Homo sapiens: one gene and its partner. The protein of the gene in region 2 interacts with the protein of the main gene of each other region in a biochemical or structural test. Each region holds a gene or a part of one and is shown on either strand. Other genes may lie near its edges. The genes, in order: HIPK2 and TP53INP1.

Evidence for each region.
Region 1: the proteins of TP53INP1 (region 2) and HIPK2 form a complex in vitro, tested with the Homo sapiens proteins (one study listed by BioGRID).

What each region holds. Positions count from the first base shown.
Region 1 is NC_000007.14:139,709,548-139,722,251, forward strand, and holds part of HIPK2 (homeodomain-interacting protein kinase 2), read right to left. Parts: exon of another isoform or gene 9,346-12,704; coding exon of another isoform or gene 9,303-9,345; intron 7,469-9,302; coding exon 6,385-7,468; intron 1-6,384.
Region 2 is NC_000008.11:94,943,865-94,956,477, forward strand, and holds the start of TP53INP1 (tumor protein p53-inducible nuclear protein 1), read right to left. Parts: upstream 5,515-12,613; 5' UTR 5,290-5,514; intron 4,481-5,289; exon of another isoform or gene 1,619-4,480; intron 1-1,618. UniProt on the Homo sapiens protein: Antiproliferative and proapoptotic protein involved in cell stress response which acts as a dual regulator of transcription and autophagy. Acts as a positive regulator of autophagy.

The DNA of each region.
Region 1 (12,704 bases), on a different chromosome or scaffold from region 2:
AATGAGGCCAAGGTCAACCCACAGGAGAGAAAACTGCTCCCTGGCCACAGACTGAACCACCAATTCTGGCCAACCGCCTCATAAACACAGGCCCAGGTCATAATGGGATCCAGATGGAGGAGTGTGGACAGTCACAGCTGACATTCTACTGACCGTGACTCAATGGAACACAGCTTGGGGCAGGGCTAGGACTGGTGCTAAGGTCTCTGGTTTCTCCTTTCAGAGCCTATTTCTTTATAGCAGTGGTGGGATTTGAAACTAGGCTCTGAAAGACTGGAGCTTCAGAACTGAGCCTTAGAGACAGCAAGGTCATTAAACAAAAGAAAGCAAAATAAACAAAAAGCTATTCCCTCTAAGTCAATTCTGCAATCAAAGCATCGGAAAAGTTAAATGCACTAACAATGTCCACATTCATACTATCGGGGGGTAGAACCCCCCATTATAATCTAGGGCCTCATCCCTTCATTCCTGAGTAACAACAGTTGTCTCCTAGCCTCTGGCTCTCAAAACATCCCCACAACTTTTTTTTTTCTTTGCCATTCCAATTGATTTATACCATCATTAATTTTCATTAAACTTCTCCTTTGTTCCAGAATTTACAATGGCTCCCAGCTCTGGCACTTTGGCTCAACCCAAGCCCCTCAAGCCTGTATTCAAAACTCTCTATTGTCAGGCTTCACTCACCGGATTATTATTTTCCAGTACAGGCCTTCGACTCCCGCCAGGTGTCACTGTCTAAGGAGTCACCATCATTTCTCCCATCTTCCCTTATTTATTCCAGTCTCCATGACCCCTAGACTTCCCCATCCCTATCTCATGTTAACTTCCCTGTTAACCCATCTGGCAAAATCTTTCACTGACTTTTAATTTCTTGAACTGGCTTTGCTCATCATTGTTTCCCTAGAGTCTGGCAGAAGGTAGGTTCACAATAAATCTCTGTTGAATGACCAAACATTTAAAATATTGAAGCATCAGAATGACAGTCTTGGCAGTTGGTTTGTGTTTTCCATCTCCTCAAAGAGACTGTGAACTCTGCAAGATTAGGGATCATGCCTTACCCTCTGCACTCTGGAGCACATATCTACTACGGGACACTCAGTAATGAATGTTTGATGAATTGAACTGAAAATTAATCTCCACCCTGATATGGTTTGGATCTGTGTCCCTACCCAAATCTCATGTTGAATTGTGATCTCCAACGTTGGAGGAGGGGCCTGGTGAAAGATGACTGAGTCATGGGGGCACACTTCCCCCTTGCTGTTCTTGTGATTGTGAGTTCTCACGAGATTTGGTTGTTTAAAAGCATGTAGCACCTACCCCACCTCTCTCTTTCTCCTTCTCCAGCCATATAAGATGTGCCTGCTTCCCCTTCACCTTCCTCCATGATTGTAAGTTTCCTGAGGCCTCCCAGCCATGCTTCCTATACACCCCGCAGAACTGTGAGTCAATTAAACCTTTTTTTTTTTAATAAATTACCCAGTCATAGGTAGCTCTTTATGGCAATGCAAGAATGGAATAATACACACCCCCACCTAAAACCACCATGAAATCAACTTGAAGACAGTCTTTGCACCCCAAAGAATCAGACAAAAAAAAAAGGCTGGGCGTGGTGGCTCACGCCTGTAATCCCAGCACTTTGGGAGGCCAAGGCAGGCGGATCACAAGGTCAGGAGATTGAGATCATCCTGGCTAATACAGTGAAACCCCATCTCTACTAAAAATACAAAAAAATTAGCCAGGCGTGGTCATGGGCGCCTGTAGTCCCAGCTACTCAGGAGGCTGAAGCAGAAGAATGGGGTGAACCTGGGAGGCGGAGTTTGCAGTGAGTCGAGATCGCACCACTGCACTCCAGTCTGGGAGACAGAGCAAGACTCCGTCTCAAAAAAAAAAGGTTAGATTATTCTGAAAAAGTGGATTATTTGCTATTTTTCATGTCCTAATTTTTTATGTTCAATTTTTGGGTCCTGGTAACAGTCCTACGTGTTTCAAAAAACTCTAGACAAGAATATTTTGAATAATCCAGAGTAGAAACCAAAAAAAATCTATATATTTTAATCACTGATTACCCTTTGCCTGAATGGCATGTCTTTTTGTTTGTGTTTTTTTCTGAGAGTGGAGTTTAACATTTGGTCTTATTTGTAGTTTACTGGTTCTGCTGATAATGGAAATACCCCAGTACCAATTTATTGCTTGCTCAAAAAAAAAACAAAAAAACTAAAAACAAACAAAATGAACTGGCATCAATGTAGAATTAAATAACAAAAGGGCAGGGGCGCCCAAGGTGAAGTAATACAAGCAAGGATTACCTGCAACTCTGTTCTTTTGGGTGTCAACACCTGAAAGGTGACACCATTAAGAAAATCCCTCTGTCCTTCAGAATAGTGTTTCTCAAAGACTGGTCCTAAGACCCCCTGCCTGGCTCACCTCCAGTTCTCTGAGGCAAGTCTCTGTGGTGGTGGGTGTGGACTTTCTCCCAGGGTACTCCCAGGGAGACTCTGTTCCCAGCAACCTCTCCAGGAGATTCCTGTGCACAGTAAAGCCTGAGAACCTGGGCAGCTGACAGTTAATGACATAACTGACCTTCGAATTGGAAGGGAATACCCCTGCTTCAGACTCGAGAAAAAAACTTAAAAAGCAGCCTTTGTTTCCTGAAAAACACACCAGTGGGCTTGCCTCACAGAATACCAACAGCCACTGTGGCCAGGCACATGCCTGAGAGCTGGGGAAAACAGTTGGCTCCGGGGACACCACCTCCTTTTCCAAGTCCCCAAGGCGAGGATAACATATCCTTGTCTCACACCGTTTCTGTGTCACTAGGTGGGGACAATGGTGGGATGAGACACTTAGCCCAGTCCCATGCAAAATGACAGAGGGACACATAAGTACTCTACCTTTTGAAAGTCAGATGTCCTGGGACGATAATGTGCCCAGCTCAGATACAGGGGGCCGAGGGGAGAAAGTCCCCACCCACCACCTGCAGGACAAAGGCCAACCTGCTGGGAGGCTGGATGCACAGCATGCAATGACTCCTCCAGCCCAGGCGGCTCAAACACACAGCCATTCCCTCACGATGCAGATGCAGCTGAAAGCATCTGAAAGCGTCTTCTTTCTGGGACATGGGCCTTAACGATGGACAATTAAAGAGCTTTTCTTGCCCCCTTTCTTTCCTATAAGAGGCAAAGCCACCAGGAAAATCAACTTGATAAACATGGCCTAGAGCTGGCTGTCCCACACAGCTGGGACGAAAAGAGACAGAGCACTAGAGACTGTCCTCGAAAAATCGGATCGATCTATATGGTGGCAAACCACTGCAGGGCTCAGACAAGGCCTGAGGGAGAAACAGAACATTGCACCAACTTAGAAATGAAGCCTCATTTCAGGCAGAAGAGCCGCTGTCTTTCCTGCTGACCGTATTTTTGGAACCAGGGCTGGGCACAGGGAGGCTGACATGAGGGCCTGAAGGTGACCACAGAAAGGAGAAAGAGGCCTTCTTGCTCAGAATTTTAGGCAATGGTGATTTCAGGGGTGAAAAGAGGGTACTATCACAACTAAACGGAGGGTCCTTCAGAGGGATGTGGGGACACAGGGGCCAGATGTGACTGTGCCTGTCACGAAGTGGGGAAAAGAGGGCTCCTGAGGGCCCAGGAACCGCCAGCAAACCAGCCTACCACACCCACCAGAGGCGTCCAAAAGGCCTGATCTCACCCACAGAGGGGGGCAGGAGAGGATCGCTGTGAGTCCAGGTGAAGGAGTCAGCCCTCCCCAACCCTCACAGGCAAACTTTTACTGCTGCCGCAGGCTTCCTGAGCTAGGATCCCCGATTTTGCGACCTGTCTCCTCAGCACTAGGGGCACCAGCACCAGGCAGGAAAGCAAAGAAAAACTCGCAGAGTCCAAGGGGATGGGCAGGGAGGGCTCCAGGAAGCGTCACATGGGCACCAGAAGGCAAGATGACAAGGGGGTCTTAAGAATCCCCAATTCAGCTTACTCGATTCACCAAGTTTCGCTCTAAGGATGTGCTGCCTTTTAAACAGAGTTTGTCGAAGTCTTTTTACAAGTCGCCATGCTAGCTTTCAGTGAATGTTAATAACACTGGTACGTGTTCATGATGCAGCAATTCAGATGAACTACATAAAAGCCCTAGCAGCCAAGTCAGGGGCTGTTCACCCTGAATTCAGGCCAAGAACTAGAAAGAGCCAGCCTTTGGCATGCTGAATTTACCAACCTAAATACGAAGTGGCACAGCAGCCTCCCAGAGCCAGCACAGCACCAGCTAGCCCCCAATGGGGCTGGTACCCGGGACGGCCACCAGAGCTGGCTTTCAGAGGCCCAGGCACTCTCTACAGAGAATATGTGCTGTCGGTACCGGGCACCCAACCCTCCAGATTCACTCAACCATTGCCCATCCTTCTCCTCTGGAGACAAGGAGAGGCTTCTTGTCTTCCTTGGAGGCTCCTGCCCTGGGCTTACTTCTCCCTGCCATTGGCTCTGGGGCCAGCGGGGCACAGAGTGGATGGCCTGGTCAGGACGAGGGAGTGGAGAGCAAGTGGAGGGGCAGCAGTAGACCCGTCTGTCCGCACGGGGCCTGGTGGTGAAAGCACAGGCCTGTGGAGACCTTTCTGCGCATAGGAAATGAGCGGGAAAGGAATCCTCAGGGCAGGGCAGAGAAGAGGCTCGCAGAGAGCTGTTCTAACTCAGGAAATGCCTCCTAAAGGGAAGAGGGAAGAGACAGAAACAGCATGGGTGAAGAGGCCTCGAAACCTCCTGTGTGAGTCAGGATTAGGATGAAAGGAGACGGGGTGGAAGGTGGGAGGGCATCTGGGGATCCGAACGGAGGGGCTGTTGCTCTCCCAGGGAAGGAGGGCCTGGTGCCCAGCAGGCTGAGGGAGGGGCTGGGAGGAGACTTGCAACAGCTCTGCCTGCAGCCAGGATGGGGGCCCGGACAGGGAGCAAGAAGGGGAAGCTGGCCCAGGTCAGCCCCAGGAATGGGTGACAGGTCAGCTGTGTCGACAAGGCCCTGGGGCATGTTCCAGCCTTCTCTCTGTGGCCTTGAAAGGCGCATGGAGAAAGCACACGGGCAAGCGAGCGTGCTTGCTTGCAAGCAGGATGGCCTCCGGGGACCCCGGTCTTCCTGCCTACGTGGCACGCTCTTAAATGTGCATCCGTCCCATCTTCTCATGGGAGTTTCAGTTTTGTTTCTTGTGACCTCTATCTCCACTGCACTGTTCGGCACCACCCCAAACACACCCCCAGGCTGGTTCCACAGAGCAGGGTCTTGCTTTCCATCCCTGCCGCCTCCCCGCTGTGCACCCGCCATGGCCAGCCACGGAGTGACACACCTAAGCCATGTTACAGCCATGTTACCTCCCAGCTGCCCACGAGGCTGGTGAGAGGATTTCTCCCACTTCATGGGTTAGGAAATGAAGGCATGGAGAAATCAGGCCATTAGGAGAGGAGGGACCAGGTTCACTCTGGCCTTTCCTGACTCCAAAGCCAGCACTCCGATCTCAGCTCCATGTCGGCAGCGGTTCCAATCCTGACTGCATACAGGGGTCCCTGAAAAGCTTCCAGATACCCCAGGATGGCAAGGGCCCTGTCTATATCCCTATACCTAGCACTGCGGCTGGCACATATTAAAAGTGAAATCAAAGCTTGTTGAATGACTGCATGTGTGAGTCCATGACTGAACACACTTCCCTGCCACGGACACTATCATTCCTCCCTCATCCTGACCCAAAGCCTGAAGTCACCTTACCACAGGAGCCACCCAGCTGGCCCCAGACTAGTCTCTCCCTTCCTCCAGCCCTTCTGCACGTGGATAGACAAGGAACCTTCTCGGAACATCCCTTTCAACCCGTTACCTTATGTTGTTCAAGGTTTCCAGGGCTTGCTCTGGGTTTGAGGATACAGTTGCAATTCCTTGATCTGATATTTAAGACCCCCAGTGACCTGGTTCCAACCAGGCTTTCACTCACATCTCCCACCACTCACAAACTGTTCTGGCCAGGCGGGTGTCCTTCTTGTCTCCTGTAAATTCCCACTAGTGTGACTGCGGACTGTGGATGGCACATCCCTCTCTCTCCACCACCTGTCTGGATCCTACCCATCCGGGAGGACGGAACTCTTCTGCTCTGCACCCCAGGTCCCAGGGAGCCCTTCCAACGCTGAACACCTGTGCCACGGATCTTACCTGGCTCCGTTCTAATGTGACTTCTAATTGACATCGCAATGTGCACATGTCCTAATTTCGTAAGTACATTAAGATCACTTGAAGGCAGGAACTGTAGACATATAATTTTATCTCCCCACAGTGACTAAGGTGGCACATTCTCTGTGAGTGCCACTGGGCATTCAGCAGCTCCTGTCTCCTTGTGGACGGTCTTACCTGTAATATCTGGACTGCAAGTAGGTGGAGCACACAGCCTTGGAGACGTGGCTGGCTGAACCAAAGTCGATGACCTTGACTCTGTATGGTTGTCTAGATGGATCCACCAGCATGATGTTTTCTGGTTTGAGGTCAGCGTGGATAAGACCTAGGCTTTTGAGTTTCATCAGGGCTGTGGCTACCTGCTGGAGAACTGGGCGAATGTATTTGAGGGGCAAGGGGCTAAACTTGTTTTGCTTCAGAAAGTCATAGAGGTTCTGCTCCAACATCTCGAAGACCAAGCACGTGTGGTTCTTGTGCTGGAAGCATTCGTAGGCCCGGACGAAGTTATAGTCATCGGCACTCTCCGTGCTCAACCGGGCCAGGATGCTCACTTCAATCTGACCTTGTCGGGCATAGGATGGGTGGTTCTTCAGGATCTTGATGGCTACGATCTCATTGGTGCCCCGTTTCCAGCACTTGACCACTTGCCCAAACGTCCCTCGGCCCAAGAACTCTAAGACCTCGTAGGTGTTGGTCATGGAGCACAGCACCTCATGCTGCACCAGCTGATAGTCGCCCTCGCTGTTGGAGCCGCTGTTTTTGGAGGTGGCAGTAGACGTGGTGGCAGTGGCGACAGTGGCCCCGCTTGCATTATTCTGAATCATGGGTGGATGCTCCTCGATGATCTGCACGCTGCTTGTGTTCTCGATCTCCTCGCTCTTACGCTTGAGTCCACATTTTTGGTAGGTATCAAGGAGGCTCACAGTGCTTCGACGCATTAGGTTGTGTGGTCCGCCGAGGACTTGCCCGGTGACAGAAGTGCTGCTTGCTGAGGTGACCACGATGTGCCCGGTGCTTCCTGGGAAGACGATGGTCTGCTCGTAAGGTAGGCTTGGGTTTGGGACCGGCAAGGAGGTGCTGACGGTTGTGGTGGCTGGCTGCGACAGGGGGATGTTCTTGCTCTGGCTATACACTTTGCTGTGGGAGCCGTACCCAGTCATGTCCCAGTTGGAACTCGGCTCTATTTTCAGTTTCTTCACACTACAGAAGGCACTTGATTGAAGGGTGTGAGGGGAGAAAACTTGCACATGTGAGGCCATACCTACAAGGAAAGGAAAACGAAAAGTAAGTATCGGAGTCACCTTGGTACAAGTAAACTCAACAGATCCCCTTCAGTTCTCATCTGTGGCTTGGGCCATACAGAATATATTCCTCCCACTTGAAAACAAGGTTGAAAAAGTGAATCTCTTCCACCCAGAAGCACATTCTGGTCACTGAGTTTGTGGAACCAAGTGGTTCCAGGGTGCCACTTGCCACCATTAGGTGCCAGCAACACAGCTGAGACTCAGAAACAGAATTCCAATATCAGGACATAGGTCACCATTTTTTTTTGTAAACATTACTTGTGACAGAAATGGATTCTTCCTCAGTTCTCCCTGGGTTGCTTTCTACTGAAACTCAGGAGGCTCTGCTGTCACGTACTTCGTTGCCCACATCATCAGCTCAGCCTTGTCCACAGACCCTGTCAAGTTTACTGGTTTGAGAAAACATCTTCCCACACAGGCCCCATCACCAGGCCACTCAGGATCTTCTGGATCCTGGATGAACCCTAATTACCAGCTGGCATCTTTGTCATCGATTCTGTAGGGTTTAGTGGATCAGCAGTTGGTCTGACGTTTTTCATTTCAACAGCATAAAACATTTTATCAGCCTTACTGGTGGGGACTGGGTAGCACAATTCATGGCTCCATTCACTCACGCTTCCTGCTAAATTCATATATCAATACATTTCTCTAGAAAGTACTATTTCTTTTTGTTTTTTTTTGTTTGTTTGTTTGTTTTTGTTTTGAGACCGAGTCTCGCTCTTGTCACCCAGGCTGGAGTGCAATGGCATGATCTCGGCTCACTGCCACCTCTGCCTCCCAGGTTTCAAGCCATTCTCCTGCCTCAGCCTCCAAAGGCTGGGATTATAGGTTCCTGCCACCACGCCCGACTAATTTTTGAATTTTTAGTAGGGATGGGGTTTCACCATGTTGGCCAGCCTGGTCTCAAACTCCTGACCTCAGGTGATCCACCCGCCTCAGCCTCCCAAAGTGCTGGGATTACAGACGTGAGCCACCGTGTCTGGCCAGAAGTACTATTATTTCATACCAACATCTCATCCACAATTTAGATAAACTTAGAAACCTATGAGACCGTTATTCTGGAACACTTGTACAAATTACGGTGATACTGAAACAAAAATTCATAGAAAATATATTAAGCAAAAATAATAAGGTGATGAAGGATAACTCCTTAAAGGTTAAAAGAGTAACAAACATTGCCCATCTTCTAAGCCACTATCAACAAACATTTCTCACAGAAGCACAAGGAAGTGCAGCTTCTGCAAGCCCTGTTGGGGGTTGGCTAACCTAGTGTTCCTGTCTCTCTGAGCCCCTGGCATTACCTAGAGTGGTAATCCTTTCCACTCCATCAACCATCACCCTAGTCCACCTTCTCTCTCAGTAGATGACCCAACTTCCACTTTGTCCAGAAGCCTGAGGTCAGCCTTACTTTCCTCCTTTATTTCCTTCTTCATTTCAGAACATTCCTGAATCTACATCATCCTCCATCCTTCATTCCTTCTCTCCAGTCTGAGAGAAAGAGGTGTTGCTCTTTTCCAATACTAAAAAAGTTCCCGATTCTCATGATCCATATTTGTCCCATTTTCTCTTGAACCTGCTTCCACCACTGTTCTTTCTCTTGTAGCTTTCCATTTCTCCCTGTACTTAATTGGATCCAAGTATTTAGTAGGAACTTAATATGGCTGTCCAAATGAATCGGTCACCTCATCTTTTTCTTCTGCCTTCATGTGCGTGCACACACAAACTCCCAACATGGAAGGCAAAAGGAGTAACAGCCGCATTCCCCCCTCTTAATTCTTTCCCTCCTCTCACCTGTGATCAATGGTTTATGCTCCCTTTTCTTCAATGCCCACATCTTAATCCATCTCCCCCAACTCGTTAATGCACTATAGGCTCCTGTTCTTGAAGGTAAATGACTTCCTAATTGCCTAATCCAATGGCCTTGTTTCAGCCCGTTCTTCTTAACCTCTGCAACATCTGATACTGCTGACCACGACTTCCTTCTTGATGCTCTTCTCTGGACTTCAGTGAATCTGTAATCTCCCCATCCCGTGTCTGATTGCACACTGTGTGCTCGGGTGGTTCCTCTTCCTCCTTTATTTTATTATTATTATTTTTTGAGACAGAGTCTTGCTCTGTCGCCCAGACTGGAGTGCAGTGGTGCTATCTCGGCTCACTGCAACCTCCGCCTCCTGAGTAGCTGGGACTACAGGTGTGCGCCACCACGCCCAGCTAATTTTCATATTTTTAGTAGAGACGGGGTTTCATGTTGGCCAGGCTGGCCTCAAACTCCTGATCTCAAGTGATCCACTCCCCTCAGCCTCCCAAAGTGCTGGTATTACAGGTGTGAGCCACCGCACCCAGCCCTCTTCCTCCTTTCAAATGTTGGCATTTCCACCGTTTTGACTCTGTTCTCTCTGGCAGCTATCATCCATTCAAGCAGTTTAAGCCGTCACCTCTGTGTAGGTGACCCCCACATGTTTATCACAGGCTGGGCTCTCCCTCAGAGGTTACAGTGATATATTGCAGCCTCCTGCTACAATGTCAAAGATGCGCTTCCAAAGCTGAACCCCTTATTTTTTCCTAAAAATCTAGCCATCTCACCCTCTATCCTAACATCTCCATGACTGTTCTAGTCACTTGGCTCCAAAACTATGAACTATGATGGTTCTTCTTTACATTCATAGACAAGAAGGTGCTAAGCCTTATTAATTTCTCCTTCCTTCAAAACATCTCTTGCATCCAATTCTTTATTTCTGCTGTTGCTGCCACTTCCACAGTGAATGTATTTATCACTTTCTAGAAGGACTAAAGCAAATCTAGACATCTCATCTACCTGAGCACTCTGTCTCCCTTTAATTTGCCTATATTTGGCTACCAGATTAATCTTCCTAAAACATCTCTGAGCATGCCACTCCCCTCTCCAAACTTCCACTGGCTCCTTACTGTCAAGGAGATAAAGCTGAGAACTCGATACATTTACATGTTGATTCCAACTACCTTGTTAGCTCCAGCTCTACTAACCTTCCTGGGTCCTTAACTTGAATGAAGCTGGTCTATTCGCTGTTTCTAGAATGTCTCTTATACTTCCTATCTTCACACTCTTACACTATTCCTTTACCTGGCATGCCTTTGCTGCTTTTCTCAACTTATCCAAAGACCAGCCAGCTTAGATTCCTTCTCTTTCCAGACCACTCTAACCCAGTGATCATTCCCAACTCACTGTTCCTACAGCACTTACCATATGTACCATCTGACTTCAGCTCTGACTTCCTAGGGGCAGTTCTGCTAACATCCAGCACCTGATTGGAGCCCCACCTCCACCCTGGGCCCATGGATCTGCTGGAGGGTGTTCCCTTCTTGCTTCAATCCTGAGCTCCGACCTCCATCTACGCACTGTGACTGCACGTCTGTAGGAATCCTCGTGCCTGACAAGACTATTCTGGCTTGCTTATTCAGAATCCGTACTTCACCCGTTTCTTCCCACTGTTCTTTTTGTTCAAGTCAACATCCCCCTTATTCTAAGTCAACATCCCCCTTATTCTAGAACAACACAGAATATGGCTATTCCCTATTTATCAGTATCAAGTGAATATCCATATTGTTCTAGATGTTGTATACAATATAGAAATGACCAATTACTTGGCTTTCAGTAACTTAGCCACTGAAGAGTCAAAGCAAAACAGCCATTTCCTTCATCCTTTCGTGTCAAGCCTGCTGCTTATTTTTCAGTCTTTAAGTACCCGGAAGGGGGCGGTCAGAGAGAGCGACAGCAGAAATACGCTGTTCATACATAAAGAAGGTGAGGTGCTAGTCTCTGTTTTCACTGTTTCAAAAAGATCTTGGTGGAAAGGCCGTCCACGGTGCAGAAGTGGAATTTTACAGAGGGGAAGAGGGTGGCTTATGACTTATTTGTTATTGGGATGACAGCCAAGGGTCATAAAATTGTGGAAATCATCACTGGCTGCCTCTGATGACAGATGCCCAGGATCAGACAGGAGGCCTACATGGCTGGAAACACCCTGCACCACAGCCGGCTGCCTCAGACTCCGGCCTGGCCTGGTGTGGCCCCTGCTGCCCCTTTATGAAGTCAACAGCCGCTATTCCAATGACTGGACCCAACGCTCAGTGCAGACGTGTTACCTTTGTTCTGTAGCAGAGGCCACTTTGCTTCAGGCAGCAAAATGCTCCAACAAGATATAGTTAAAGTCTTTAACAGTAATACTTTTTTAAATCCCTGAAATACCTTCATAAGGAATAAGACACTGCTGGTGGTTTTGTAGCTTAATCTTAAAATAATCTTATGGCAACACACTTATTTCCAAACATTTCTCCTTGAGAGTATTTCTCTGGAACAAACCTTCCCTATTAGTTTAGCTTTCAGAGAGTTGAGCCCACAACGTATTACTTCTCTATTTATTCAGATCCTAAAGTGAGGGACAATAAAGTGGGGGTGCAGAGGGGGACTCAATGTTTTTTTCCACTTGAAAGTAAAAGCTAAATGTCTCCTCTCATTTCTTTCTGTATTGACCTCTGGACTAGTCAAGGCTACTTCCCGCCTCATTTGTCAATATCCTTTTCAGGAAAAACAGAGGCTTAATGCACATTGTCAGTTTGATCCAATGGCAAAATCTCAACTGCTTTTTAAGTTATCTCTGCACTTCCTAGTTGGCTCTTGAAAGAGAAGGCGGATTTTACTCCTTCTAGGTGAGAGACCAGGGGGACTACTGGACTTGGGAGGGCAAGTTTCGAGCCCATGGGGAGCAGTAAGAGGAACCCAGGAGGTCACGGTAGGATAAATCTGCCATAACCACACCTGCTCCTACAGGAATGACCTGACCCAGACTTTTCCACAAAAGCCTTAGTGGCCTCCCAAGATAAAACCTGTCAAAATGGCCACATTTTCATTCACTAAAGGACAGGGAGTCACCATAACCTAGAACTAAAGCTTTTAACAAGTAGCATGCCTATTACCATACCACTCTGTCTCATAAACAGGCTGAAGTCATAAACACTGAATCTCAGATATGCATGGGGTTCTTACATGCTTGTTAATTACACAGACACGAGTTCATGTGGTTGCTACAGAAGTGATAAGTAAAAAGCACTGAAGAACAAATTTATTAAAATTTAAAACAACTTCTATTACACAACTATATATAATAAACTCTTCATTGCATATGACAAATGAAAAATAGCACCTATAAAACTGAC
Region 2 (12,613 bases):
CGGCCAAATCATGAAGGCTGGAGCTGTAGCAGAATTCAAAGTCAGCTTTATGCTCTATGTAAGAACAATCAGAAGAAAAGTGTAGTTTGTTTGACCTGCTGTGGTGTGATAGTTATATTCCAAAATAAGTTATCATAAGGTCTGATGTAAATAAAGATTTTTGAGGATACATGCTTAGAGGGAAAAACATATTTTCAAAATCCTTCCTCCATTTATTTTAAATTGTGGAGGCAGATATTGGCCCCACGTACAATTCTGTGTCTGCTGAACCAGTTGAGAGAATAAGCCCAATTCTGCAGAGCATGGTGCTGGACTCTAGCCCTGAATCAGCTAAAGCCACTGGGAGGGGAGAACCACACAGGGGAACCTTTGCTTGTCCTGAACGAATGCCTTGTCCCCAACCTGTGATGCTGCATGAGAGTAAGGCACTGGGGCCCAGGTCAGATAACTGGCAGCTGTAAGGCCAAAAAACATTGCTGGGGCCACTGCAGTTGTGACAGCTGCTGGGTTCCCACATGCAAATTGCCCCCTCTGGCCACAGGTCCAAACCCAGGAAGGCAGCTTCTGCCTGGAATATATGCAAGTAGCAAGTAAGATACAGGAAAGGCTTCTCTGGAGGAGCTTTCTAGGGAGCAGTACAAGTCAGTGCTCTTTTGGTTTCCCAAAGTCAGAGGCTGCCTCCAGATGTCCCATATCTCTGCAAGGACAACCAACCTTGGGCGACAGAGTGCTCAGAAGCCCAGCCAAGTGAGGGAGGAGCTCATCCTTCATCTCACTCAAGCCACTGCTGGTGTTTACATGGCACATCTGCTGACACCCGTGGGAAGAACACAGAATGGAGTTCCTGGGGAGGGTTAAAGGGGCCTGGCCATCCACAGCAGCAGTTCTGGCTGTGGCTCTACTACAGGTGGCTGGAGCTAAATTGGCCCTTCTGAGCTTCAGTCTCACTGTTGGGAAAATGGGGAGACTGCGCTGAATCACCTCGTCACTCTCTTTCCCCACAAACTTCTAGCACAAAAAAGTGAGGCTGGTTTAACTAGCAAAGCCAAATTCCTTTGGCCCTGCTTTCTGCAGGTGTCACAAAAGGCAAGGAGCTATTGGAGAGACCCTCCCCCCATTGCTAAAACTGTCCACTGAGGTAGCCACCAGGCACACTGTGCACATGAACACTTGAAATGTGACTAGTATCATCGAGAAACTGCATTTTTCATTTTACTATTTAATCCATTTACTAAGTTTAATCCAGTTAAACTTAAAAGCTGATAATTTAGTTTTTTGAAAACTTTCAAGTATGTTTGGAACAGTTAGGGTATGAATCTACTTTTTCACCTATAAATTTTACGAAGTCTAAATATAGATCAAGTACTTCAAATGAAAACTTTGTATCTGAATTGAGATGTGCTGTATATGTAAAGTACACACTAGAGTGTATTTCAAAGACTTAGTACCCCCCAAAATGCAAAACAGTTTTTATATTGATTACATGTTGAAAAAATAATTTTAGTATATTAAATACATTAATAAAATTAACTTCACCAGTTTCTTTTTCCTTTTTAAATATGGCTACTAGAAAATTCAAACATACATGTGGCTCACATTATCTATTTCTGTTGAACAGGACTGTTCTAGAAAAAGTCTTAAAGGCCTACCCTCCTACTGATGACCCAGAGACTGTCCCTGCCCAGTCACTGCTACTGTTGACCTTGGCTCCTGCCCAGGGATGGAGGCTCTCAACTGGGCTGGTTCTACATGGAGGTAAATGGAAAAGTAGAGCTTTAGACTCCTCTCCTCCCCAGATCACCACTAATATTCACAATGCTAGGGCAATCATAGAACGAAAATAAAAATTCCAGAGAAAGCATGTGTCCTAAGAGGACAAACTTACAAATACAGTTCTGGAATTCAGCAAAGAGGTGAAGCAAAGAAGGTTAGGTGAAGTAGCGCTGTTGTTCTTTGAACAGCTTTAACCAGCGTCAGTCCAGCAGTTTCCCCGACAAGAGAAAAGAACCCCTCAATACAGAAAAGAAACAAAGTGTCTGGGCCCTAGCATTTCAAGAAGGCAGCTTTGTCCTTGTTCTGCTTGGCTCAAAAGACCTCCATCCCTCCCTTTAAAAAATAAATTATGTCTTTTCAATTATAAACTGAACAAAACCACATTATAAAAAGTCTAGAAAATAAGAAAAATAAGTATTATTCCATTGCCTTGTTCCCACCACTTAACACATTGGTGCCTTTTCTTCTGTTTTTTTTTTTCTTCTACACATAAGGCTTCTTTTTATCATAGTTATAGTCTTGTGAATGCACTGTTTTGTATCTCACTGTTACTTAACATTTTATCATCAATGGTTTTCATATTATTACATGAGTAGAGATGCTTTGTAGGCAGAGAAAGGTGGCTGACTGAGTCTAATACTCACGGGGAAGAGCATTCTAGTTTGACCACTTAGAAAAGGAACTGCTAATTTGGAAGATCTTGTTAGCATAATTTATTTTGTCACTTTTAAGACAGCCCACCAAGAGGCAGTATATTGTGGTACTTAAAGACTGGCTCTGAGGCTGGGCGCAGTGGCTCATGTCTATAATCCCAGTGCTTTGGGATGCCAAGGCAGGAGGATCACTTTAAGCCAGGAGTTCAAGACCAGCCTGGGCAACAAAGCAAGACCCCATCTCTACAAAAAATAAATTAGCTGGGTGTGGTGGTATGTGCATGTAGTCCCAGCTACCAGGGAGGCTGAGGTAGGAGGATCGCTTGAGCCCATGAGTTTGAAGCTGCAGTGAGTTGTGATCCCACCACTACACTCCAGCCTGGTCAACAGAGTAAGACCCTGTCTCAAAAAAAAAAAAAAAAAAAAAAAAGACAGGCCCTGGAGTTTGAAATCTTGGCTCTGCTACTTGCAACCTATGTGAATTCAGGATATTTACTAACATCTTGGTGTCTCTGTTTTCTCATCCTTAACATGGGAATGATAGTTATAATACCTACTTCACAGTGCCAGTGTAAGGATTAAGTGTATACTACTTAGAATAGCAGACCTCGGTTCATTCAAAGCCAGTTGTGAGACTGTCAACAAGTCATTTAGCATCGCTGCATTTGAGTTTCTTTATCCATAAAATGTCTACTTAATAATTAGAGCTACAATTTACAGAATGCTTATTGTATGTAACGGGGCCTTGAAGTACTTATTTGTCCCATTTTACTGATGAGGAAACCGAGGCTGAGGAATTAACTAACTTGTTCAAAAGTGACAGAGTTGGTTGGGGTGGAGTCAGCATTAGGGCAAAAATCCATCTGATTCCAATTCCTTGTTTTCCCTATACATGCTCTTTTAGGCTCCCAGTCTCAACTATGGGTCTACGAACTTCAGAAAACAGCCCTTTTCAGTTAGTTTCAGCTGCCAGTAGGCGGCTCCAAAAAATATTAAAAAAAAAAAAAAAACCCGCAAGTTTGATGATCTAACTTCTAAATCTGTGTACAGTTGTGGCTCCTTCACAGTTTCAGGAAATCAGGTGGCTAAACGTACCGTCATTGAAAAGCAGCTTCAGAATTATCCTTCTTTTTATCCCACCCTCTTCCACTACTTTAAAAACGTGCAGATTCTAGTAATTTAAAATGGGTTTTGAACTGGAGAAAAACCAAGCCAAGAAAGTTATCTCTGCTTGTTCCACTTATATGAAGACTAGATTCAAGTAATTTAAAATGGATTTTGAACTGCAGAAAAAACCAAGCCAAAAAAGTTGTCTTTGCTTGTTCCACTTATGTGAAGACTGTTCAACTAGTGTGCAAGGGAGGTTATTCCCCCAGGGATCCACCCCTGTCTGCCCCTAAGGCTGAAAGACAGTGGACAAAGACAAGAGTAAGTGGTAATTCATAGCCTGATAATCTTGAATTTTGAAAGCAGACATCAGAGGAAGCAATGGCAGGAAAGAACAAAAGATAGGATGAGAAAACAAGACCTTGGTCACAGAAATTAGTAAGGTCCTGGTTCCAGGCAGGGGCCTTTTAAAATTATGCTGCCAGTTCAGAATTACACTGATTGCGACTTAAAAGCTTCCCAGTGCTTTTCACATCTGCAAATGAAAATGTATTTCAATTACCAGGCTGGTGATTTCAGTATCGTGGGGGAACTCATTATGACTTCTGTTCAGTGACCCCAAGGGTCACATTGTTCCCCCTTTTCCCAAAACTATTGTGCATTGAGAAAAGGCTTTTTTAGCAATAGATGCCCAAGTCCTTGGGAGTCACAGTTGTAAAGAGGCTCTTCCTTAATCCACTCTGTATTGGAATTAACCTACTGAGCAGATATAATCAGAAAATACAAGCAAAACAGACTCTCCAGGTAAAATTCAGCTGCCACTTTGAAATACAAACACCATTTCCTTTTATTAATTGGCTGTGTGGCCTTGAGCAACTTAATCTCTCTGTGCCTCGGGTTTCCTATGTGTAAGATAGCCGGGCCTATTTCATATAAGGTTATTATGAGAATCAACTGGGGCGATAAAGCAAAGCCCCCAGCATAGTATATGGCACATACTCAGCGCTCAGTAAGCGTGAGCGATCCAAAGGATCTAAATGTTAAGGGCCAAGGAGAGCGCTCTTTCCACAGGTGCAAAGTCAGGTAGCGAAGACTGAGTTCAAGCCAGGTCAAGCAAGGGACAGGCCGCGGACAGGCGGGGGCCGGTGGCCGGGTCACGGAGCAGGTTCCCCATAGCCGCAGGGCCTCCGGAACTCGGAGGGCAGGCGCAGGGGACGGGATCGCAGGGCGGGGACAGAGCGCCGGGCCACAAGCCCAAGCGCCGCTGTCTTCGGAGATGCGTCCCGGGGGTGGCCGCGGGAGCCCCGACGCCGAGTCCCGAAGGGGCGGCCCCATCCAACGGCCGAGAGCAGGCGGAGGAGGAGGAGTGGAGGGGAGTGAGGAGGGGTGAGAGGAGGAGGTCCCGCCGCGGCCAAGAAAACAAGCCACGCTCGGGGGAGGAGGCAGAGACCAAACTCCCAACCGCCGCCCAGCGCCGGGGCCAGGCCGGGCCCTTGTCCGCGCCGCCGCCGCCTCTGTCAGCCTCTGTCCGCGCCCTGGGCCCCGGGGGCCGCCGAGGACCGACCCACTGGGTGGGCGGCCGGGCCCGGCGGCGGCGAGGGGAGGCAGCGAGGGGGCTCGGTGAACGCGCAACCGGCGCCCCGAAGGCAGGGCGCGCGGCCGGCCCCGCCGGGCTCAGGAGCGGGCAGCGCTGCGGCCCCAACCGGCAGCGAGGCGGCCCTGGACGGACGCCCGCCCGCCCCCCCCCGGCACTTACGTGGGCCCGGGCCGTGCGGGGCTGCGCGGGGAAGGGAGCGGCCGCCGGCTCGGCGGGGAAGGACGCGGGCGGGGCGGGACTGCTGAGGTAGCTGCGGTGGGGCCGGGCTGCGCTGCACCTCGTTCAGGTACCCAGACGGCAGGCGCGGGGCCGGCTCCAGCCCTCGGGTCGCTGCGCCCAGGCCGGCCAGTCCAAGTCCTTTTGTTGTTGTGCAGCGCTCGCAACAGCTGATCGGCCGCTCCGCTCGCCGTCGGGCCCCGCTGCCCCGCCCCGGGCCGCGCCAGGCCGGGCCCCACCAATCGGCGGTGCGGGGGCCCCGGGGCCGCCCTGCGAGAGGTTGTCACCAACGCACGTGACCTGGCGCCCGGCCGGCGGCGCGCTCAGCTCCGAAACAAGCCCGGGCAACAAAAACCGGGAGCTGAGCGTGAAGGCCTGGGCGAGCGGAAGGGTGGGAGAGAGGGGCTAGGCCGGGGAGGGAAGCGCTGGGGCCGGGGCCGGCTTTCCAGGAGCCGGCGGGAGCGGGGTGCGTAAGAGGCGGGCGAGGAAGAACCGGCGGGCAACGGGAAGGGCAGAGGTGGATCTCTCCCTCAGCGACCCCTCTCGCCGAGTGAAGGGTCGAGGGTTTGGGGCACAAAGGGCGCAGAACGTTTTTTCCTGTGAGAGGAACATTAAGACTCCTGGGAGGGCTGGGGCTAACGCCTCCGAGAGCCCCACCTGGTCAGCCTAGGGTTAGACGTGTAGCCAGGGTGCTGGGAGGGGGCCGCTGCTGGGCCCCAGATAGAGGGGTAGAGGCCGCTCAATCACGGAGCCAGGCCCCACCTGCTGTAGAAACCGCCACCGAGAGCCGGCCGGGCTTGCTGCACGCTCTGGATTCCGCCTGCCTATAGGCGAGGCACAAGGGACTGCGAGACCAGGCCTGAAGGCAGAGAGGTCAGCAGGCTCGGGGGCCTCTGCTCCAGCGGACAACAAGCGCACCGGGCGGGAACGGCCGCCTCCCCAGGCGCTGCAGCCTAGCTCTCATGTGACCCACGGAACTTAGCCCCTCTGTTCTGTTTGCATACCTGCAAATTGTGGGCATTCACGCCGGGACTGCCAACTCACCAGGTTATTTATAGTGACAAGAGAGTGAGACAGTGGGCTTGAAAGTGTTTTCCAGACCAAGGCTCTGTCCCACATATAGGTGGATTAACTGTCTGGCAAAGGCAGGTGAGTAACGTTGATGCCTATCAGCTCTCATGTGGATACTGTTTGGACTGGGATGTAGTTCTTTGACCTGGGGTGAGCTGTATAGCAACCCTGGAGGGATGCCTATCACACATTACAGTATCTGAAAGACACTCACATTCTGACCCTCACAATGTAGTCAGTCCATTTCCAACAATGCTGGTTTTAAAGGATGTAAATTGCAGTGCAGGGAGTTGTCAGACACCAAGGAGTAATGATCAAAATATGATGGTCATTGGACCTTATCTTGGGAGAAAGAGCTAAAACTGTGTTCTAGATAGTCTCACAGACTTGAACATGCTTTGGATTTTAGGTTTTTGCAAATCAGGCTTGTTCTAATATTTTCTCCCACATGCTATGGTAGGAGCCCCATGATCTCTTGTTTCTCCCTAGGAATCCATTGAAGAGGCCATCTCCACATTCAGAACCAAGGTATGATGACAATTACAAGGGGCTAATTTTTAAAAAGAAAAAGGCCTACCTTTTTCCAGTTTGATAAGGTTTATCATGGTTAAAGCAACATGTGAAATCATCATCTTGTTATGATAGAAAAATTCAATATGAAGTAGATCATTTTTCCAAAGATGACCACAACAGTATCTCCATCATGAAGTGGGTGTATTTTTCTTCCCTTTGAATCTGGGCTGACCCTGTGATTGCTCTGACCAATAGAATGTGGCAGAAAGAATGTTCTAGGACTTCCAAGCCTCGTCATTAAGCAAAAGCATTAAGCAAACCCCACAGCTTCTGCTTTGTACTCTGGAAAATGCCAGCCACCCATGAGGAGAGACCACCCTGCTAGCCACAGGGAGAGGCTATGTGAAAAGAAAGAGATGCCTGGCCAGCTCTAGCTCTTCAGCTCATCCCAGCTGAGCTACCAGACACATGAGTGGAAAAGCCCTTAGGAAGTTCCAGCTCCAGCAGACACCATACTGAACAGAGGAGAGATAAGCCATCCCCACGGAGCACTGCCAAAATGACGGCATTGTGAACAAATAAATGATCATTGTTTTAAGGCACTAAATGTTGGGGTAGTTTTTAAAGCAGCGATAACCAAAACACAAAGCTAACAGAAATGCCCATCACAGATCAGTGACTCTAAACTCTACCAAATAGTGTTTGTGATGAAAACATCTTGTCTCAGGAGTCACTTGCTTTCTGTTTACTCTCTTGCTGATTTATAATCTTCCCACCTGGTGCTTGTTTATTCCCAGTGGTGCACCAAGGAGGGCGTGCCTCAGGGCAGCATAGGTGAAGTCTGTCCCTAGGAGGGAGGAGTACTTTACCACGACATTGTTTGGAACTGTTGGAGCATAATAATAAAAAGCAAACTGACTTTTAGTCAATTTTATTTTAAAATTCTTTGCAGACACACAAATTTACTGTGTACTGCCTGTATCTGGGGTGGATCACTCCCACTGCCTCCCTTCCTGGTATGCCACTGGTTTACATAAATGCATGCAGTGAAACTCAGGAGTAATGTCATCTCCATAGCGTAGAGCTGTCTGAACACAACCAAACTGTCAAATTACACAAATGCAAGCAAGCTTTTCATCTGTTCACTGACAAAGACCCAGCCAGGTTCCCTGCCTGGGCAGATCCAGTGAATCCAACCATCCTTTAATTCACAGAATAATTCTTAGCGTGTTGCTATAGTACCCACTTCCAGGCTGACCCCCTGCTGTGGGGGTGACCCTTTCCCCATCTGTCAGAGTTCTCCTGTCTGTTTTCCATGGAGCTCAATACGCTCCCTTATCTACCCTAACAAAAGGGATTCAACCTCAAGTTTTGTTTGGAAGACTCACAGTGCAGGACCACATTCACACCAACAAACAGATACAATGCAACTAATGCCTCTGCCTCCTGCTTATGAAAGCAGGCTGTGGCCATAACCCTGCCAGTTGCATCGAGGCTGCTAAAGAATGTTGTTTCCTACCAACCCATAGGATGGCTACTTGGGGCAGCCTCAGAACACAAAGCAACAAGTTGTTCTGTCTGTACTGAGGAGAATGGCAAAGTGAAGTCCACTTAGGTCGTTTTCTATCTACCCATCAACAGTTAGGATCTGCTGGGCTTCTACCATGGACACAGCATGTTGCCAAGTGTCTGGGAAAGACAAGAATTTTTTTAAATTGCATTTTAGATAAACAATCACTTAGCATTCCAGTGACATCTATTGTCTTAAGGGAAGAAAGGATCTGACTGGGTCTCCAGAAAGCCTGGAACAAAGAAGCAAGAGATTCTGTGATTTCTGCTTTCTGAAATAAAAACAGAAAACAGGCGTTTAACTGGGCTGCCAGTTACCATCTCAGAAAGGAGTCAAGAATTATTCCAGGGCCATAAGTGTAATAGCTTTTCAAGACCCTGCAACCTTTGTGACTTTTGTATGTTTGTCTTTTTGTTTAACCCTATTTCCACGTGGTGATTAGAAATAAAATCCTTAAAATAAAAAGGGTCTGTGTGCTGGCTGAGGCAGCAGAAAGGAAAAAGGAGGCGGGCCCCCTTCATTCAGTAACCAGTGCTAGGGGGGAGTCCCCAAGAGGTGGGATAGCCTGCGCTGGATTGTAACTAATGATCGCTTCAGGCCTAGAGTATTTTCTCTAGTTTCTGGAAAGTACTTTCAAGGCTTCTTAGTTTCTGGCTGAATGTACAGGTAACCCAATTATTTATGTTAAAACTTAGAGCAGAGGCTGGGCACGGTGGCTTACGCCTGTAATCCCAGCACTTTGGGAGGCCGAGGCAGGTGGATCACCTGAGGTCGGGAGTTCAAGACCAGCCTGACCAACATGGAGAAACCCCGTCTCTACTAAAAATACAAAATTAGCTGGTCATGGTGGTGCATTCCTGTAATCCCAGCTACTCGGGAAGCTGAGGCAGGAGAATCGCTTGAACCGGGGAGGCGGAGGTTGCATGAGCCGAGATCGCACCATTGCACTCCAGCCTGGGCAACAAGACGGAAACTCCATCTCAAGAAAAAAAAAAACAAAAAAAAAACCTTTGAGCAGAAAGCAAGGTCATCCCTTACTGGATATGGTCTAGAGACATGATACAGAATGGCCCTTCATACACCACCCTAGCTCCAAGGAGCCATGAAGCTTGAAGAGGCGCACTGTGTGGGGCAGATGTGACTCGTTCTTGGGGCGGTTGTCAGAGATTAGTTGAAGTGTGTGAGCAAAGGGCTTTTGTAACTCCCGCTGCCAAAGCGACTTCTTCACTCACACTGATACTTCTGGGCACTGCCCAACAGTCCGCATATGCCAGAGGCAACCTGAGGTGGGTCTGTAATCATGAATTGCTTTGTTAGGGTGACAGCATGAGTGCAAGTGCCTTTCTGCTCTTCTCAAAAGGATGCAGATGATATGGTTACTACTTACATAAGCCACACACTGCCTAAATAATCTACCTATTTAAGGAAAACTCGTTTATTGGATTCTTTTTTTTTTCTTTTTGCATGAATGAACTACCTTAAATATCCATTTCATTTTGCAAGATGAATTTATGCTTTTAAATGTCCATGTTTCTCATGGCTTTGGCAAAGCCAGGCCTAAACGTTTTGATCATCCAAGGCAAGGTTTTTTATTTCTATAGTATCCTTTCGGGGCCTCTTTTCCTGCTTTATTCCTCTTTGATAGGAGTAGGCATTTATTTCTCTTAAATATCCATTACATTTTGCAAGATGAATTTTTTTGTTTTGTTTTTTGTTTGAGATGGAATCTCGCTTCGTCGCCAGGCTGGAGTGCAGTGGCGTGATCTCCACTCATTACAACCTCCGCCCCCCGGGTTCAAGAGATTCTCCTGCCTCAGCCTCCCAAGTAGCTGGGACTACAGGCGTGTGCCACCAAGCCCAGCTAATTTTCGTGTTTTTAGTAGAGACAGGGTTTCACCATGTTGGCCAGGATGGTCTTGATCTCTTGACCTCATGATCCGCCCGCCTCAGCCTCCCAAAGTGCTGGGATTACAGGCATGAACCACCACACCTGACCTATTTAACAGTTATTTAATGAGCACTTACTCTATGCCAGGCACCAGGGATACAGCAGTGAACAAAACAGAAAAGTCTTGGCCCTCAAGAACCTTCCATCTAGTAGAGGAGATACAATAAACAAGTAAATATATAATTTAGTGGGTGCTGTGAAGAAAGATAAGCTGGGTAAAGGGTTAGAGAGAAGTTGGTGGGGAGGTAGTGTGGTCAGGAGGGCCTCTCTGAGGAGGTGGCATTTGAGCATTGAGAACCAAAGGGCATAGAAGAGTGGTCCAGGAGCAGGAAGAGCAAGTGCAAAGGCCTGAGGTAGAAGAGTCTTTGCTGTGCTTAAGAGCAGTGCTGTTCTCAGGCTACACAGTGTAACTGAGGATTTGGCATGATCTGGTATCTGATGGTGACCTGACCAGACCCATAGGTTTATAAGCTGAAGAGCCGTAGAACTTTGAATTGTTTTGCTGTCTTTTTGGCTTTTCCAACACTTCCAGAAAGGCCCACAGATCTCTGAGAAGTCACTTTTTGTGTTTATTATTATAACCTGGAACTAAATTGTAGAGCCCTGAGAACAGGTCTCACAGAATGGGCCTCAGGTAATCAATTCTGTTGCATCCTGGAGATAAATACACTCTGTGCTGTCTGGTAAGGAAGGAAAGAACAGATAATTATGGAGTTCCTGCTCTGGAATGGGGACAGTTGCTTATCTTCTAAGTGCCTCAGTTTCCTCACCTGTAAAAGAGGGACAATAATACCAGCTCGGAGAGACAATAAAGGCAGAAAGGTGCCTGGCACATGTAGGTCTTTGGTAAGTGTGTGTTCTTACCAGCACATAGACCCTTCTTGTCCTAGTTCATTTTGTGTTGCTATAACAGAATACCTGAGAATGGGTAACTCATAAAGAACAGAGATTTATTTCTTACAGTTGTGGAGTCTGCCAAATCCAAGGTCGACAGACCCACAGAAAGGCAAGAAAACGTGCACACACATGAGAGGAAGGGGGTCAAACTCATCCTTTTTATCAGGCATCCACTCCTGTGATAACTAACCCACTCCTGGGATAACAGCATTAATCCATTTATGAGGCAGAGCCCTCATGACCTAATCACCTCTTAAAGGTCCACCTGTCAACACTGTTGCATTGGGGATTTAGTTTTTAACACATGAACTTTGGGGAACACGTTCAAACTATAGTGCTTCTCATTTGAAGTATTTTGTCTCTAATCACCATGTGGAAATAGGATGTTATTTATTTATCTATTTCCCTTTTTTGAACCCCAAATAGATTAAAAGGAAATAGGATTTTAAAAGAAAATAAAAGGAAAAATGCTTAAAAGCTTTAATAACTTCTGAGAACTTGAGCCCCCTCAAACCATAAAGTCAACAGCAAAATATCTTCATCTTCTTTAATAAGTCTATAAGTAGAAACCACAGAGGTGGTCTTGACCTATGCTTGAATTTGTGCCTACCTAACCTGCATTTTGTATTATGTGAATGTTTAAAACCATAGTTTGGAAAAGAAGTCCCTCCCTAGCACACACTGATACACCTGAGTTACTTTACCTGCTCAAACACAAGTGCAATAGAAACCAATCAGTCCTGTAAATTAAACTCCTGGAAGCCATATAATCCATAACTCAGAACAGAATTTAAAGTGAGAAGCAGCTGAATCAGCTGAATCTAATGGTTAAGAGCCCTAATTCTAGAATCAGACCTTAGTGCAAGCTGAATGACTTTAGGCTTGACCTCTCTTAGCCTCCATTTCCTGTTGCATAAAATGGGGATGATTAGAATGCCTCCTTCAGTGGTTCCGAGGTTAATGAGATAATGCATGTAAGCATTTAATACAATGCTTGGCACTATAGTAAGAGCTTATTAAAAGGTCATAAGAGTAACCTGAGTGTGCTGGGTTTTCCAGCGTTTGGGCAAGTGCTATATAAGCTGGGGGGTCAAGGAAGGCCTCTCCAGAAGGTGAGTTCTGAGCCAAGCCCTGCATGATGAAAGGGGCAAGCAAGCTCTGTGAAGCTCTAATCAGTGACTAGTAGCAGAAGGAACAGTGAGTGTGAAGGTCCCACCATGCCACAGGGGTGCTTAGAGGACCAGCAGTGTGGCCAGAGTGCAGTGAGG